Regions from separate parts of the Homo sapiens genome. Here region 2 is linked to region 1. Evidence: fine-mapped expression QTL. A gene starts in region 1. The other region holds a variant in brackets. All regions are shown on one strand. Distances are from middle to middle. Region 1 holds the start of CABIN1 (calcineurin binding protein 1). Region 2 overlaps SUSD2 (sushi domain containing 2).

Evidence for each region. PIP is the estimated chance that this variant, and not a neighbour inherited with it, causes the effect.
Region 2: its variant is the best candidate, but not a certain one, in a credible set for the expression of CABIN1 in tibial nerve (GTEx, PIP 0.72).

What each region holds. Positions count from the first base shown.
Region 1 is chr22:24,006,665-24,014,991 of GRCh38, reverse strand. It overlaps CABIN1 (calcineurin binding protein 1), which reads right to left and starts at 3,688. Exons shown (of 37, transcript NM_012295.4): 1 at 3,625-3,688. LOC105372959 (a long non-coding RNA gene) reads right to left here. Exons shown (of 2, transcript XR_001755457.1): 2 at 6,125-8,327.
Region 2 is chr22:24,186,426-24,194,752 of GRCh38, reverse strand. It overlaps SUSD2 (sushi domain containing 2), which reads right to left. Exons shown (of 15, transcript NM_019601.4): 11 at 7,303-7,551; 12 at 6,910-7,182; 13 at 6,618-6,794; 14 at 6,426-6,528; 15 at 5,647-6,341. The coding sequence ends at 6,317. Among named protein-coding and RNA genes, the nearest start is that of SUSD2, 9.1 kb to the right of the region's middle. RefSeq lists an enhancer at 4,539-5,180. The variant C/T (reference allele first, on the strand shown) is at 3,418.

The DNA of each region.
Region 1 (8,327 bases):
ACGCCTGGCCTAAAACATACTATTAAGTGAAAAAAGCAAACACAATTATCTATATAGCATGTCACCTTCGTATAAGAAAGAAGAGGATGTGAAAAAATACACAACTAACTGTTCACTTGTGCGAAAGAAACACGAGATAATCCAGATACCAAAGTTAGCTATACAGGGTAGGTGGGAAAGCGGTGAAAAGAAGGGGTGAATGGGAACAGGGCAGTAGGCATAAGAAGGGAAAGACACTTCTCTGAGTATACCTTTGTGTGTAGCTCTGACTCTCAGAAATCAGTCATAATTCATACCGCAAAAACAACTAAAATCAGCTAGGATGCAGGGGGAACTCAAAATGAAATATAAACACTAACAATGAACCTAACTATTACAACTAACATAACCACTCTGAAAGGCATGAGGAAGAAAGGAACTAACCTAAGTAACTGTAGAAAATGGTATCTTGACTGGATAGGCTAAAGACAAAAAGAACTGATTCCAGAGTTGGGTCAGAGAAAACACAAGATGAGCCTGGAACACCTTGTGGTGTGCCATAAAGTAAGTGCTTGAAGGAAAAAAAAAAAAATGAGGGCCAGTTGATAGGCCACAGAAGCTAACCTGAAGGAGATCCTAACTAAATAGCCAATGCTGGAACAGTAAGCAACAAAATAATGATGATAATGAATTTTAACTCATAGAATATAATACATATCCATGGCCTACACTGACACATAAATAATCAAATAAATAAATAAAAGAGAGAGAGGGTAGTTCTCCTTTCAGTAGAACTTGACTTAATAATGTAGAAGGAAAGAGAGAAATAATTACCTTTAGGCAAACACCACAAAGATCTGCAGATGGATGCTAAAGTCAGGGAGCAAATTTGTGGAGAACGAGAATTTGTGTCCTCTCAATGTATCTCTCCCAAGAGACTTATTAATTAGAAAGGGATAGTAATTTTATGGTGTAGAAACCTGGTAGACACCAAGTAAACCAATAGATCAAGGTAAATATCACCAGTAATAAGACATTCCAATATCTTGGACTCCATGTGATGCACTGAGAAAGACACAAAGATAATGTGTCTTTGTGTTCTGGCCAACAATGCATAATCTCACCCCAATCATTAGAAAACACTGGACAAACCTTTAAATTGAGAGACGTTAGACAAAATAACTGATCACTACTCTTTAAAAGCATCAAAGCCAAGGAAAACAAGAAAAGACTAAGGAAGTGTTATGGACCAAGGAGAAATAACTAAATGCAACATGGGATCTTGGATAGGGTCCTGGAATGAAAACACAACCTTAATTTAAAAAATGGTAACATTCATATCACATCTGTAATGTAGTTAATAATACTGTACCAACACTAGATTTCTGTTCTTGATAATTGTATGATTATGTAAGATGTTAACATTAGGGAAAGCAGGGTGAAGGACATAACAGAGCGTTTTGTATTGTTGCAATTTTTCTCTAAATCTAAAATTAGTTTAAAAAGCTTAAAAAGAGGCCGGGCATGGTGGCTCACGCCTATAATCCCAGCACTTTTGGAGGCCGAGGCGGGCGGATCATGAGGTCAGGAGATCAAGACCATCCTGGCTAACACGGTGAAACTCCGTCTCTACTAAAAAATACAAAAAACTAGCAGGGTATGGTGAGAGGCGCCTGTAGTCCCAGCTACTAGGGAGGCTGAGGCAGGAGAATGGCGTGAACCCAGGCGGCGGAGCTTGCAGTGAGGCGAGATCGCACCACTGCACTCCAGCCTGGGCCACAGGCGAGACTCCATCTCAAAAAAAAAAAAAAAAAAGCTTAAAAAGAAATAACCATTTTGATTATATATTTATCATCTGTAAGCAATGTGAGGATGGTAACCATTTATGTATTGTTCACCATAAATCCAAGAAACTCACTAAAAGGAGCTTTTAAAAAAAAAAAAGCTATTGAGGCCGGGCGCGGTGTCTGACGCCTGTAATCCCAACACTTTCAGAGGCCGAGGCGGGTGGATCACCTGAGGTCAGGAGTTTGAGAGCAGCCTGACCAATACGGTGAAACCCCGTCTCTACTAAAAATACAAAAATTAGCCAAGCATGGTGGCGGGTGTCTGTAGTCCCAGCTACTCGGGAGGCCGAGACAGGAGAACTGCTTGAACCCGGGAGGCGGAGATTGCAGTGAGCCGAGATCATGCCACTGCACTCCAGCCTGGGCGACAGACCAAGGCTCCGTCACACACACACACACAAAAGCTATTGAATAATCATGAAAAAGAAAAATATCTATTCATTTCTGACTCCCAGCCCAGCAGCTGCATTTCCTCAGATAGCAGCACATTCACCAGGCTTATTAGTCTAAGCTAATAAGTTTCCAAACCCCTTAGAATATAGTTTCCATGGCCTCAGAACACGATAAAGAGTAGCACACCTTCAGACCTCAGCACCCTGATCCAGAGTGATAACTGGGGATGTTTCCTGGCCTGGAAGGTGGGAAGCCTATGTCTTAAGCTCAGTGGTGGCAGTGCCCTGGCTGTGTGACTGACTTGACATAGATGTCAGTCTCTCAGTCTGTTTCCCCTCATGTATGAGGCTTTGTACTAGATGAGGGTTCTGCAAGCTAACCAGCCCACCCTTTTTGTACAGCCCACGAGCAAAGAATGGTTTTTACATTTTTTCATATTTGGGAAAAAAAATCATGACACGTGAAAATTATATTAACAATATATAAAATTAAAACTTCGGTCCCTATAATTAAAATTTTATTGCGACGCAGCTAGTCTGTTATGTATTGTCTTTGGCTGTATCCACACTACATCGCTACAGTTAAGTAGACAGAGTATGGACCCCCCAAGCCTAAACTACTATTATGAATACTATTATACTCATTATACTTACAATATAACAATGTAAACACTGATATATTTACAACAAAAGTTTGCCGACCGCTGAACGAGACTGTTCTAAGCATATTCTATTTCTAACCACAATAATCACATAGAAAGAATCTTAGCCACATGGAATCCGACGGTCCCACACTTATAACCTGTAATAACCCAGGTCCTGAAGAGTTAAGTGACTCCCAAAGCCACTTGTGCAGATACCTTGGGAATGCCAGGTGAGTTCCATCTGGCCAGGGCCCGCCTCTTGCGGGGAGGCAGTGAAGCAGAACGGTCAAAATTTTCAGTCTGGAGTCGCGCTCACCCACTGGGTGACTTGGAGCAAATCATTTCACCTACCCGCGGCCTCAGTTTCCACCCCTGTAAATGGCACCAATAACAACACTCACCTCGCAGGGCTGCTGTGAAGGTGAAGCGAAAGGTCGCGAGTAAAGGGTTAGCGCGCTGGGCTTTGCACCCAGCAGACGCCAAATCAATGGTGGCTCCTGCGGTTACTGGGAACCTCCCCGGAGGCCGGAACCCATTCTAGGCACCTCAGGGCGGCGGCGAGAGCCATGAAGAGGCTCGCGAGGCAGCCAGGAAGCCCGGCCTCGGTTTCCCTGACTGGGGCTCTAAAGCTGCCCGCGAAACCCCCAGCTTCCTCACGTAACCCAGCCTCGCGCCTGCAGCCCCTCCGGCCTGTGCCCCGGGCTCTGCTGAGCCTCACCCCCACCCCGGCACCGCCTTCAAACCAGCCTTCCAGGAACTCACCAGGCGTCTCCACAGCAACGGCCAGTCTGTCCCGACCACCGCGCCGTCCGGCTGCGCGCCTGACAACAAGGCGTGCTCCCATTGGCTCCGGTGCCGGTTGTGCCAGCCAATCAGCGGGGGCGCACGCGCCGCTCGCTCTCCGCGGGCTGCTTAGCTGGGGCCCTGCAGACGGCTACCCTTGGGCGGCGCGCGCGCGCGTGCGCGCGTGTGTGCGCGTGTGTGCGCGCGTGCGCGTGTGCGTGTGCGTGTGTGTGTGTGTGTGTGTGTGTGTGTGTGTGTGTGTGTGTGTGTTGCGGGAGTGGAGCTTGTTGTTTCCGGATCCCCGTCGTCAGTCCTAGCGTGCTGGAGGCTTAGAGCACCAGCTCGTAGTCGGACTCTCTTCTCCACAGCTTGCACCCTGAGCAGTCACTAAATGATGGGCTGTGTGTTATTACCTGGGACATGTGCTCTGAAAACAGTGGAAACTTGGGGAACACTTAGAGCGGGGTGTCCAATCTTTTGGTTTCCCTGGGCCACGTTGGAAGAATTGTTTTGGGCCACACATAAAATACACTAACACTAAGGATAGCTGATAAGTTAATAAATAAATAAATAATAAAAATAAAAATCACCAAAAAATCTCAAAATGTTGTAAGAAAGTTTATGAATTTGTGTTGAGCCGCATTCAAAGCCAAGCAGACCAGCGCGTTGGAGAAACTTGACTTAGAGGGAACCAGGGAGGAGGAGCATCCTCATTCATTATATTACCTGTGCCTCTCTTTCCAAAAAGGATGTGAAGCCCAAAAGGAACAGATACAATAGGATATTGAAACAAAAGGAAAAAAAGGAACAAAACCTAGTAAATGAACAAGAAGAGGGGTCATGGGTGGTGTCAGAATTCCAGAGATGAAAAAAGGCGACAGAGTTGAAGGGGTTCTGTCAAGGGTCTTGGGCTGAAAGATGGTACTCTCTTGGGAGCTAGAATAACAATAAAGCATTGTAGGGAAGAACTTTACACTGTGGTTGAATTCATAGCTGCTTGAGTCTTGCACAGATGATTCAAATAGGAGTGAATGTTGGGGGCTTTTTAACCTCAAAGACAGTAACAGCATGGTGAAAAACTCAGTTCAGTACAATAAAGCTATACTGATAAGCTAGAAGTTCTGAAAATTGTTGAGTCACCAACCTTGACTTTGAGTATTGGGGTAAACAGTATTTGGGGGGTAAACAGAAGCATAAACAGATGGTTTCAAAGCTGCATGGATAACCTTCAGCCTCGGATACAGCTTCCACTCAAGCCTTATCATGAAAGATGCGCTGGAGAGAAACAGTTGAAAATAGGTGGGAAGGGTGGTCCAAGCAGCAAGAAAGTTGTGTGGGGAAGGTCCGGAGGTGAGAAACATGCAGATCATGCTGGAGTGTCATGCAGCACAGTGTTACCGTGAGGCAAAGCTCAGGGCCACAGTGGGGAGAGAGCACTCTGGAGAGTTAGGAAGAGGCCAGTCCAAACAAGCAAGCAGAAAACATATTGTTGCAGTCTTGCCCGTGCACCACAATGTACCAGTCTCTCATTGTGGGGTATCACCCAGAATTCTTTGTCTCACGACCAAGAAAATTAGGGAGTGTGGACACAAAGGGTAAGGTTGAAGCAAAAGTTTAATAAGCAAATGAAGAAAGCTCATTGCAGCTGGCGGGGGGCCCAAGCAGGTTGCCCATTATGAGGCTGGGTCAGGGGGTTTTATGGACTGGGAAAGGAAGGAATGTACTGACTGGTCTTGGAGAAAGCACTACTCAGCTTGGCCCCTGGACCTTGAGGGACCAATCAGGAGCTGAAGTGATAGCCTGGCCCAGGACCAATCAGAGGCTCACATTCTAAAGCACGTCCAAGAAAGGAAAGTGCCCACTGGAACCCACTGTAGCCCACCGTGTACATGTCCACAAAAGGAGAAGAGACTATTTCCTGGAAGCCCACTGGTTATACAAAGGACAAAGGCATTTCTATGCTGGGTCTTGTTCCCTTATCAAAGTAGCTGTGGGCATGCCTTAGGCACAAAGATCAAAGGTGTTTCTGTGTTGGGCATTGTTCCTTTATCTGAGTGAGCCAGAGGTTTGTGCAAGTTTCCTTATCTGTGCCTGAAGCCTGATTTTTCAGGCTGTTCCTCTGTTTAAAGGAGTTTTACCAAGGACCCACCTTAATTACCTAACTTTTCTCTCTCAATATCACTCTCACTACACTGAGGATGGCAGATTTAACATGGGGAATCTATATCAAAGACTGTGGCCTTATGGTCTTGGTGAGAGTTAGGCCTGAATCCCATCCATGGTGACCGCAACGATTCATTCATATCCAATGCAAGCATTCCCTGAGGCACTCTGGGAAGCAGGACACCATGAAACACACTGGCAGAGGAATGAGTGCAAAATACTTGGGTCAGGGGTCCAGGGGAAGGAACTCCAAGGTCTAGCTATCAATGAAAGTCCTTAGCAGTGGTTAGGTACAAACACACCAGGCACAGGCATATTCCATTAGAAATTGATTTTATTAACTACATAGACTGCACAGACTGAAAATCTGAATTTGGTGTTTCACTGGTACGCTAAAGATAAGGATCATCAAAGGTTTATGCAGGGAAACAGTGACCACCACGGTGTCCAAGGGTCATTAGAGGAAAATTCTGCATGGAACATGTGGAAAGCTACAGAAATGGAGACTCCCTATAGGCTCCCCCACACCACCCCTACATACTTTGACATTCAACAGACTGATAGGATATTTAGATAAGAGGGTGGGGACCTCATTCATTCAGTTTCAATGCAGTTTCGGCGCTGACATTGCATTTCCAGGTTTGGCATTCTGGGACATGGGTTTTACAAGGTGCCTAGCTACAGAGAATTATCAGCAAGAGTTAACAGAGAAGATGAAGTTCTCTGCCCAGGAATGCCCAGAGAAAGTCCCTGAAGACAAATCTGCCCTGTGCTCTGGCCCACTACAGCAGACTATGGAGAGGAAACAGCTCAGAACTAGTGGAGAAGGGCTGAGCAACTCCTGGAGGTCCAGAATTCTGGGGAGGGCAGGTGAGAGGAGCAGCAATGGGGCTTGAGCTCTTCCTGGACCTGACACACTATCCACTTTTGCAAGACAGAATGACATCCCTTTTGAGCTGTGGATGGTGGAGTTGGCTTGGGGTGAGCCAGGTGGCTGGGCTGGGCCCCATGGAGTGGGTGCCAAGGACCAGGCCCTACACTGAGCCTTCTCTCCTTTCTGCCCACCAAGGGAGCACCTGAAGCCTGAGTTCCTGAAGGTGAACCCCCTGGGGAAGGTGCCTGCCCTCAGAGATGGCGACTTCCTACTAGCAAAGAGGTAATGGTGACCTGGTGCCCACCCAGGGTCAGAGCCAGGATCTGCCTGGGTTCTGGGGCTCAGAGTTGTAGGGGGAGGCAGAGGCGAGAGGGGAGATCTTTCCTTGGCTTGGAGATCTTTCCAAATCACTGAGGCCCCTTCCTCATTTCAGCCTGTGTAGCTCCGATGCAGAGGCTGGACCCAGGGGCACCTTTGGGCTAAAGCTGGAGGCTGGAACCTGGCTAGAGTCTGAGCCAGCTGGAGCTGCCCAGGTGGGGAAAGGACGTAGGTCACCCGGATAAACCTGGACAACCTGAAGCCAGCGGGCAAGGCCCAGGCTTGAGGCTGGCTCCTCCCCAAATGTCCCCAGCTCATCCTTTCAGAGTCCTAGGAGCTGGGCAGACCCAGGGGAGACTCCACATTCAATCCCAGCTCACCACTTCCTCAATCCATGCCCTTGGGGAAATCACAGAACTTTGTGTGCCAGGTTTCTCCTCTGTAAAACGGAGTGGGAGGAATAATGTATCCACCTCCCAGGGCTTACCTGAGGATAGAAAATGGGCACCTAGTGTTCTGGGGCACTAGGAAGGGAACTTGGAGACCTTTTGGGCAGGGCCCACACGGCAGGCACTCTGAGTGGGGACCCTGATGCCAGGGAGTGGGGCCTGGGCACAGAGGGCAGGATGGTATGGTAACTGGGAGGGGAGGTGGAAACATGGGCCCAGGGAGGATCAGAGTTGGAAATGGAGAAACAGAGTGGTTTGGTCGTGGGGAGATACTGCCTGGAGGGAGTTGCAGTATAGGGGAGGTCCTCCCCTGAAGGTGAAGGTGGGGAGAAAACCTGGTCAAATCACCCTGAGTATGAGCAATGAAGCCACCTGGCCCTGACAGGCTGGAGAAAAGATCTCTGACACCCCCTGCCCACAGCATGGTCATCGTTTTATACCTGAGTCGAAAGTACCAGATACGGGGACACTGGTACCCACCTGAGCTGCAAGCCCGCACCTGCGTGGATGAGTACTTGGCGTGGAAGCATGTCACCATCCAGCTGCCTGCCACCAATGTCTACCTGTGCAAGGTGAGCTTCCTAGGCCCTGTCATGCAGGCTGGGGCAGGGGCCTGGACCCCCAGAGATGGAAGGCACCAGTTGGTACATATTACATATTAGCTTCACTTCCACTGTCCTCAGCAGACATAACTAATCTATCACAGTACTCCTTCCCCTAAGCCTGAATGAATCCTTAGAAACCTTCTGAACACAGAGCCCCAGAGGACATCACTAATGAGTGGCAGCCGGGAAGGGATGGAGAGGAGGCCCAAGAGGCTTCCAAGAGTCTGGGTTAAGTTGCTCCTCTCCTCCCAGCCCAGTCTCTCCTGCCCCACT
Region 2 (8,327 bases), 180 kb before region 1:
ATTTCTCCACATCCTCTCCAGCACCTGTTATTTCCTGACTTTTTAATGATCGCCATTCTAACTGGTGTGAGATGGTATCTCATTGTGGTTTTGATTTGCATTTCTCTGATGGCCAGTGATGATGAGCATTTTTTCATGTGTTTTTTGGCTGCATAAATGTCTTCTTTTGAGAAGTGTCTGTTCATGTCCTTCGCCCACTTTTTGATGGGGTTGTTTGTTTTTTTCTTGTAAATTTGTTTGAGTTCATTGTAGATTCTGGATATTAGCCCTTTGTCAGATGAGTAGGTTGTGAAAATTTTCTCCCATTTTGTAGGTTGCCTGTTCACTCTGATGGTAGTTTCTTTTGCTGTGCAGAAGCTCTTTAATTAGATCCCATTTGTCAATTTTGGCTTTTGTTGCCATTGCTTTTGGTGTTTTAGACATGAAGTCCTTGCCCGTGCCTATGTCCTGAATGGTATTGCCTAGGTTTTCTTCTAGGGTTTTTATGGTTTTAGGTCGAACGTTTTAAGTCTTTAATCCATCTTGAATTGATTTTTGTATAAGGTGTAAGGAAGGCATCCAGTTTCAGCTTTCTACATATGGCTAGCCAGTTTTCCCAGCACCATTTATTAAATAGGGAATCCTTTCCCCATTGCTTTTCTCAGGTTTGTCAAAGATCAGATAGTTGTAGACATGTGGCGTTATTCTGAGGGCTCTGTTCGCTATCTATGACAAACCCACAGCCAATATCATACTGAATGGGCAAAAACTGGAAGCATTCCCTTTGAAAACTGGCACAAGACAGGGATGCCCTCTCTCACCACTCCTATTCAACATAAAGTTGGAAGTTCTGGCCAGGGCAATTAGGCAGGAGAAGGAAATAAAGGGTATTCAATTAGGAAAAGAGGAAGTCAAATTGTCCCTATTTGCAGATGACATGATTGTATATCTAGAAAACCCCATTGTCTCAGCCCAAAATCTCCTTAAGCTGATAAGCAACTTCAGCAAAGTCTCAGGATACAAAATCAATGTACAAAAATCACAAGCATTCTTATACACCAACAACAGACAAACAGAGAGCCAAATCATGAGTGAACTCCCATTCATAATTGCTTCAAAGAGAATAAAATACCTAGGAATCCAACTTACAAGGGATGTGAAGGACCTCTTCAAGGAGAACTACAAACCACTGCTCAAGGAAATAAAAGAGGATACAAACAAATGGAAGAACATTCCATGCTCATGGGTAGGAAGAATCAATATCATGAAAATGGCCATACTGCCCAAGGTAATTTACAGATTCAATGCCATCCCCATCAAGCTACCAATGACTTTCTTCACAGAATTGGAAAAAACTACTTTAAAGTTCATATGGAACCAAAAAAGAGCCCGCATCGCCAAGTCAATCCTAAGCCAAAAGAACAAAGCTGGAGGCGTCACACTACCTGACTTCAAACTATACTACAAGGCTACAGTAACCAAAACAGCATGGTACTGGTACCAAAACAGAGATATAGATCAATGGAACAGAACAGAGCCATTGTATGTTCTTTAAGCCCATTAAATCTTCCCCACCCAGGCCAGGGGCAGTGGCTCATGTCTGTAATCCCAGCACTTTGGGAGGCCAAGGCACAAGGATCATCTGAGGTCAAGAGTTCAAGACCAGCCTGGCCAACATGGTGAAACCCCATCTCTACTAAAAATACAAAAATTAGCTGGGTGTGGTGGTGGGCGCCTGTGGTCCCAGCTACTAGGGAGGCTGAGGCAGGAAAATAGCTTGAACCTGGGAGGCGGAGGTTGCAGTGACCTGAGATTGCACCACTGCACTTCAGCCTAGGGACAGACGGAGACTCTGTCTCAAAAAAAGAAAAAAAAAAAAAATCCTCCCCACCCCAAATCATGCACTGTCCTCTTGAAATCATCCACACTCCCTATCTCCTGCTAGCCCTGGGGTGATCAAGTGCCTGCTGTGGCCCATCGGGAGACGCCTCTCCTCAGGGTCCAGTGCTGCCGAGGAGGAGGGAGTGGCCAGTGTAGTGCGTTGTAGGAGTGGGAAGTCAGGGGGGGCTTCCTGGAGGAGTCTGGCTCCAGCTGAGTATCAAAGGAGAGATTCCCATCGCCCTTTCCCCTAAGAAGCAGGGTATATCAGCATCTTTATCCCACTGGGATATTCGGCAATGACTCTGTGATTCTCCCCCAACGCATGCTAATAACTTGGTACACCTTGTTTTCCAATTAATCTGCCTTTTGTGAGTTGATTTTTCCTTGAACTTTCAGAGGGTAAAGGGGAAGTTTTCCCTTGGCCCCTACATTATGGTGTCCAGCATATGACATTTTATGGCTACTTGACATCGGTTAGTCTAGAACCCACCTAGCAAGTGGCGTCAAGGTGGGAGTGAGGCGTGACTGCTGTGACACCCCATCACATTTCAGTGCCTCTCTGGGCCTGATAATTAAAGGGGGCTCTCGTTCCTCAGATAAAAATTTCTTTTTGGCCGGGCACAGTGGATCATGCCTGTAATCCCAGCACTTAGGGAGGCCGAGGCAGGAGGATTGCTTGACCCCAGGAGTTCAAGACCAGCCTGAGCGTGCCTGTGGCCCCAGCTACTTGTGAGGCTGAGGCAGGAGGATCACCTCAGCCTGGGAGGTTGAGGCGGCAATGAGCTATGATCGCACCACTGCACTCCAGCCTGGGTGACAGAGTGAGACCCTGTCTCACAGAAGAAAAGTTTCTTTCCCATCTCAGCACCAACTAACTGCTTCAACAAATGGTCCCTGAAACATATTAAGGCTTAATCACAAAAGAAGTTTATTTCCTGGTCCTGGAAGAGTAGTGGGTGGGTGATCAGGTCAGCAGGGACTTGGTTGGCATGACTTCCAAAGTCAGTCATCCTCACATCCTTGCAACAAAGGGAGCTGGTGAAAGCCTGAAGGGGTGCCTGTGGGAAGCCGCACTCCTCCACGATGCCTCCTTGACTTCCCACTCCTACAGTGCGCTGCACCGACCCCCCCGCCTCCTCCTTGGCAGCATTGGACCCTGAGGACAGGGGTGTCCTGATGGGCCTAGCAGAGGTCTGGCCCACAGCAGGCACTCGGCCACCCTGGGGCTTGCAGAAGGAAGCAGCTTGGCAGAAGAAGGGGTCCCTTGCTCCCCAGCTGTGCCTGTACTGTACTGTACCGAGTCAGAGCCCTCCCTGGCCCCCAGATCAGCCGCACCCACTGTGCTCAGCCAACAGGAGACCTAGTGGGAGGCTGGAGGGCAGGGGGCACAGAGAAGCCGGGCTTCCCTACTCTAGCCAGCAGGGGACCTGCAGCTGGGCTGTCACCTCTGTGACTCCCCTTGGCCCACAGGCCTGCGTGACGCCCGCTTCCATGGGATCTGGGCCTGGCTCCCATAGCACATTCCTTCCTCCCTTTGCCCTTCTGCCCAAGGTGGGT[C/T]TTAGGATCCTGCTGGTACCTCATCGGCTCCTGTTTGACCCCCCCAGCTCTCTCATCACCTGTGTCTCCAAAGCCCTGGATTACCATCTGCCCCACTCTGACTGGTACCACCACGATGGTACCGGCCATTGGGTGACTCTGATACTCCATCATTTCAACCCTACTGTAAGCCACCCGCAAGCTCCCATGGCTGCCCGTCCTGCAAGCCCTGGGCTGCTATTTGGGAGACCATCTCCCTGAGGCAGCGGTCCCTGCCTTTGATGTCTCTAGAGAGTCTGCACCGGCTCCAGGCCTTCTGCCTTTGCACAGGCCCTGTCTCTATCTCTTTCGGGCCCCAGGAAAAGCCCCTGGCAGGTGGTGGGGCTTCCCAGCCTGGCCTGCCCCTGGCACTGGGAACATCTGATGTCTGGGACTGGGGCCACAGACAGGGCACCCTTTCTCCTGCTGGAAAGGGGAGGTGGGGGGGCAGACCAAGGGCCCATCCTGGAGGGAGACTGGTGGGGGTGGGGGAGCCCGAGGCAGGCCACACTTTGCTCTTAGGATGAAATCTAAATGCCTTGGCCTGGCAGGGGAGGCCTTGGCTGGCCCCCACCCCTGTCATTCCGCAGACATGACTGCACTTCTCTTTCTCTGAGCCTTTGCATAGACTGCTCCTCTACCCAGAACCCCTGTCCATCTGGAACCCCTGTCCAACCAATCAGAGCTCTGAGAATCCAACCTGTTTCTTGACCTCAGTTCGGGGGCTGCTCTTGTCTGGGACACCCTCTAGTGGACCTGATGAGCTGCCAAGCTGCCCCTGCCGCTCTTGGGCCCCCTGAAAACCTGTGCCCGCTCCCTCATGTCCAGGCCTTGACCCGGAAACTGACCTCTCACCCACTGACACGTGGCCGGCCCAGGCCTGGCGTGGCACAGGGGTGCGCTGGGGATTCAGACAGTGGGAGGGGAGCCCTGCCTTACCTCATCTGTAGGGAGGAAAGTACCTGCCCAGCCCGCCAAGGGGCTGACCCTCAGCCCCACCATGCCTGGAGGTGCAAACCCAGGGGAATGGGGAAGCAACGGAGTGAGCTCTAGAAAGAGAGAAGGCCAGACCCCATTCCCCTCCGCTAGCCTCCCGCCACCCCTGCCCTGCAACCCTCAGCTCGGTTCCCGCACACGTGCCCCATCATGCACATTCACCTCCTCCAGGAAGGCCTCAGATGAGACATGTCTCTGCCTCCCCAGCTCTCCCATTCACCAAGGGCAAGGCTGAGCAGGTGAGAGGCCTGGACTCCCACCCCATGGTCAGTGCCCGCTGAATGACCTGGGGAGACCTGTGCAACCTCTTCAACACTCCTGAGATGCGGGGATGACCCAGGTGCGGGGAGGCGGAGGGGTGGGCTGTGCGCAGACCTTGGCTGCGGTTGTGACCAAGTCGGCTGACCCAGCTGCAGGGCAGGGCTGACTGCCCTCCCAACCTCCTGCCACCCAGACTCGCTGTTCCTATCCTCTGCTGCCCCTATATGGCCACTCCCAGCGCTGCAGGTCACACTGAGGCGGCTCAACTCCCCACCCAGTGTTCTCTACCTGGCCCCCAACTTCCAGCCTCACCCTCTCCAGCACTTTCTCTGAGACCTAAGGGGCAAACCCGACCAATGCTACCCTGCCTGAGTCCCCATTCGGGACCCTCTCCACAAAGGTTGATGGACCCTGGTCATCCTCCAGCTGCTTCCAGGTCTGTGCCTCCATGCCAGGCCCCACAGGAAGCGCCGACAAAGAGCTGCTCAGGTGGGCCACCGTGGCCTGAGGCCTGGGCTCTGTGCCCAGATTCTGGACATTCCTGGGCTAAGGAGCCTGGGCGCTGGTCTCCTGAGGACTTGGAACTGATCCTGCCAGCGACTGCACCCAGCCAAGGAGCCGAGGCTGCAGGGCAGTGCTTGCCAGAGCACGCCAGGGCGTGGTGAGGGGGTGGCACCTCTGTTGAGGGAGGGGTTGTCCTTCTCCATCTCCTGAGTGACCCAAGTGAGCCCTGTGCTGTGTTGGCGGCCTCCCCACCCCACGAGGCGGCCACAGTTCTCCATCCCACTGCATACATGGAGAGAGAGCCTGGGGAGGGAGCATCCCCGGCAACCTCGTGGAGGAAGCAGGCAGGGCTCAGACCTGCCTCACTCTGGATACTGTTGGTGGTGACCCCGGGAGGCGGTCATGGAACTCTCCAGAACCAGGGCGCAGCATGAACACCAGGAGACCAGGGAAGGAAACAAGGCGCTTGTTTTCTCTTTGCACAGGCAGGGAGGGTGTTCCTGAGTGACCTTCCAGAAGAGTTCGAAATTATAAGCCTGGAGTGCCGAGGGAGGCCTCTGCCGCTGGGGGTCTCGCTGTCTGCTTTGGGGTTCTGGGGCCTCTCCTTACCCCATCTGGGGTCCCAGGATGGGCCCAGGGGTCCAGGAACCAAGGCAGCACTGCACTGGTGCCCGCACGGTCCGGGAGCAGGCCTCCGTAGATCAGGGGTCAGGGGCCCCGGCATCAGGCTCTGGGGAGTGAGGTATTGGAATCTGAGGCTCAGGGGTCAGGGGCCCCGGCGTCAGGCTCTAGGGAGTGAGCTATTGGAATCTGAGGCTCAGGTGTGGGAGTGTCAGGGCTCAGGACATAGGTATTAGAATCCCAGGGTATGAAGTTTCAGGTTTGGGGAATTAGAGCCGTGAGTATTTGGGGAAGAGCACGGAGCGCTGCTAGCACGGGGCTTGGGTGTTGGAACACTGGGCCTCCTGCCTGGGGTCTGAGATGACAGAGTAGGGGGTTAAATGCCCAGGTATCAAGTATCCAGGTCCCAGGTGTCTGGTCCTGGGGATGCGGGAGTCGCAGGACTGGGCTGCCTGTTCTCAGGAGTCTTGGCCTGGTGCTCACAGCCAAGCTGCTCCCATCAGGGCTGTGCACCCCAGACGTGCCTGCAACAGAAACGCAGTTAGAAGTAGCCTCGGTGGTCCCACCGGCTGTCTCGGGGTCTTGGGAGAGGGGCTGGGGGGTCTCACGTGTTGCCCTTCCTGCGGCGCAGCAGCACATAGACGAGCGCAACCGCCGCCACCACCGCGAGGCCCCCAAAGATGATGCCCAACAGCACCGCGTAGCTGCGTCCTGGTGAGGGAGCGAGTGTCAGTGAGGGGGCTCTCTGGGGTGGTGAGTGGGGACAGGTGCAGGCAGGTGTATGAGCAGAGTGTCCTCACCTGGCTGGCACTTCGGGGTGGGTGAGGACCAGGTGCCGTCAGCCTGGCAGGTGCTGGTCTCTGCCCCGGCCAGGCTGTAGCCGTTGTCACAGTGGAAGTAGATGGTGGAACCCGCCAGGTACCTGTTGCCCTCCTTTTGTCCGTTGGGAGGTGGGGCCAGCCAGCCACAGGACACCACTGGGATGGGGACAGAGTGCAGACAACAGGCCTGAGCTGCCATGCATACACACATCTGGCCACCCCGGGGGGTCCTGTCCCAGCTCCCCGCCCACCCCCACCTGCCCGCCCTCACCTGGCTGCAGGCTCTGCATGCGACGCTGGTGCAGCTGGTGGGCCACCCGAGTGGCAGTGCCCGTGCTCAGGCTCCCAGTGGCTGCCACATCAAAGTTGCAGAAATGATCGTCCCCACATAGTTTGGCTGCCTCTTGTGCCAGGCTGGGGTTGAGGGTGGTCTCACTGGGGAAGAGGGGCTCGAAGGTGGGGTCGTGCTTGGGTTGGTACAGGAAGTTGTGGACCAGGAACCAGGAATCGTAGGTGAGCAGGGAGGACGCATTGTGCACGGTCCCTGGAAGATACATGACCGGGGCCTGGCTGGGCATGGCTCCCTTTGGTCCCCAAGCCCTGCCCGTGCCATGTTTCCAGTAACCCCCACCCCGTCTGCCCCATATACTCCACGGTCACTCACAGTTGGCCCCAAACAGGAACAGCTCCTGGGGACTGGTGCCTGGGGGCAGGACGCGCCCGCTGTGCAGGGTGAAGTCGTCGGTGGGGTCGTTGTTGAGTGTCCCGAGGAGGCCGTGGGTGTGGGTGAGGAACTTCTCAGGCAGCAGGACGGACACACTCAGGAACGGGCCCTGCACGCTGACCTCCAGGCCGGCCCCTGATGCCAGCATGATGGAGACCCTGTCCCCGGCAGCCACCGACAGGAACATTCCTGGGCTCAAGGGGGATGCATTAGGGTCACCCGCTGTGAGCATCTTGTCCCCTCCCGCAGCCCCAGGACAGGGTGGTCGGCACCCAGGGGCTGTGGGTGAGGGCACCTGCAGGGGAAGGGAGGGCGTTCCCGGGGCCAATTCTGCTGACCATGACCCTCCGCCACCCCTGCCATGCTTGCGGTGGAACTCCCAGCGGCACCTGAGGTGCAGCCCCTGCAGTGAATCCCCCATGTTGAGATGCACGTGTGGGTCCCTCTGGCCTTGGCTGCAGCAGCCACACCTGCCTGGGCACGTCCCGAGGGTCCCTGAACCCTCAGTGCTGACAGGCCCCTCCCAGGTCCTCACCCATCCCAACCAGGAATCCTTTCATTGACTCAGTTCCCTGAGGCAAGGGGTTCAGATGTGGAGCTACCACTTGCCAGGGGCATCCTTAACCGTGCAGGGCTGGAGACCTTGCAGTGGCTTTTGAGGACTGAGGGAGTGACAGGAGCACAGGAGTGGCTCTGTGCAGGCCAGCGGTGAACGTTACCAGGGTGAGTTCCCCTCCAGAAGGCTCCCGGGATCCTCCGTAGGGAGGACATGTCCCACCGTCACGGCCTCTCGGCTTTTGACCAGGTGGGTACGACGGGGGCACCTCGGTGGGTGTGAAGGCCTGAGGTCGGACCACCCAGGCCTCTAGCCAGGACTGGGAGAGGCATGAAGGCCCAGGGCTTCCCCTCAGTCTCCCTGCAGGAATGGGGAGGAGGTGAGGGCAGCCCGCAGCCTCGCGTGGCTG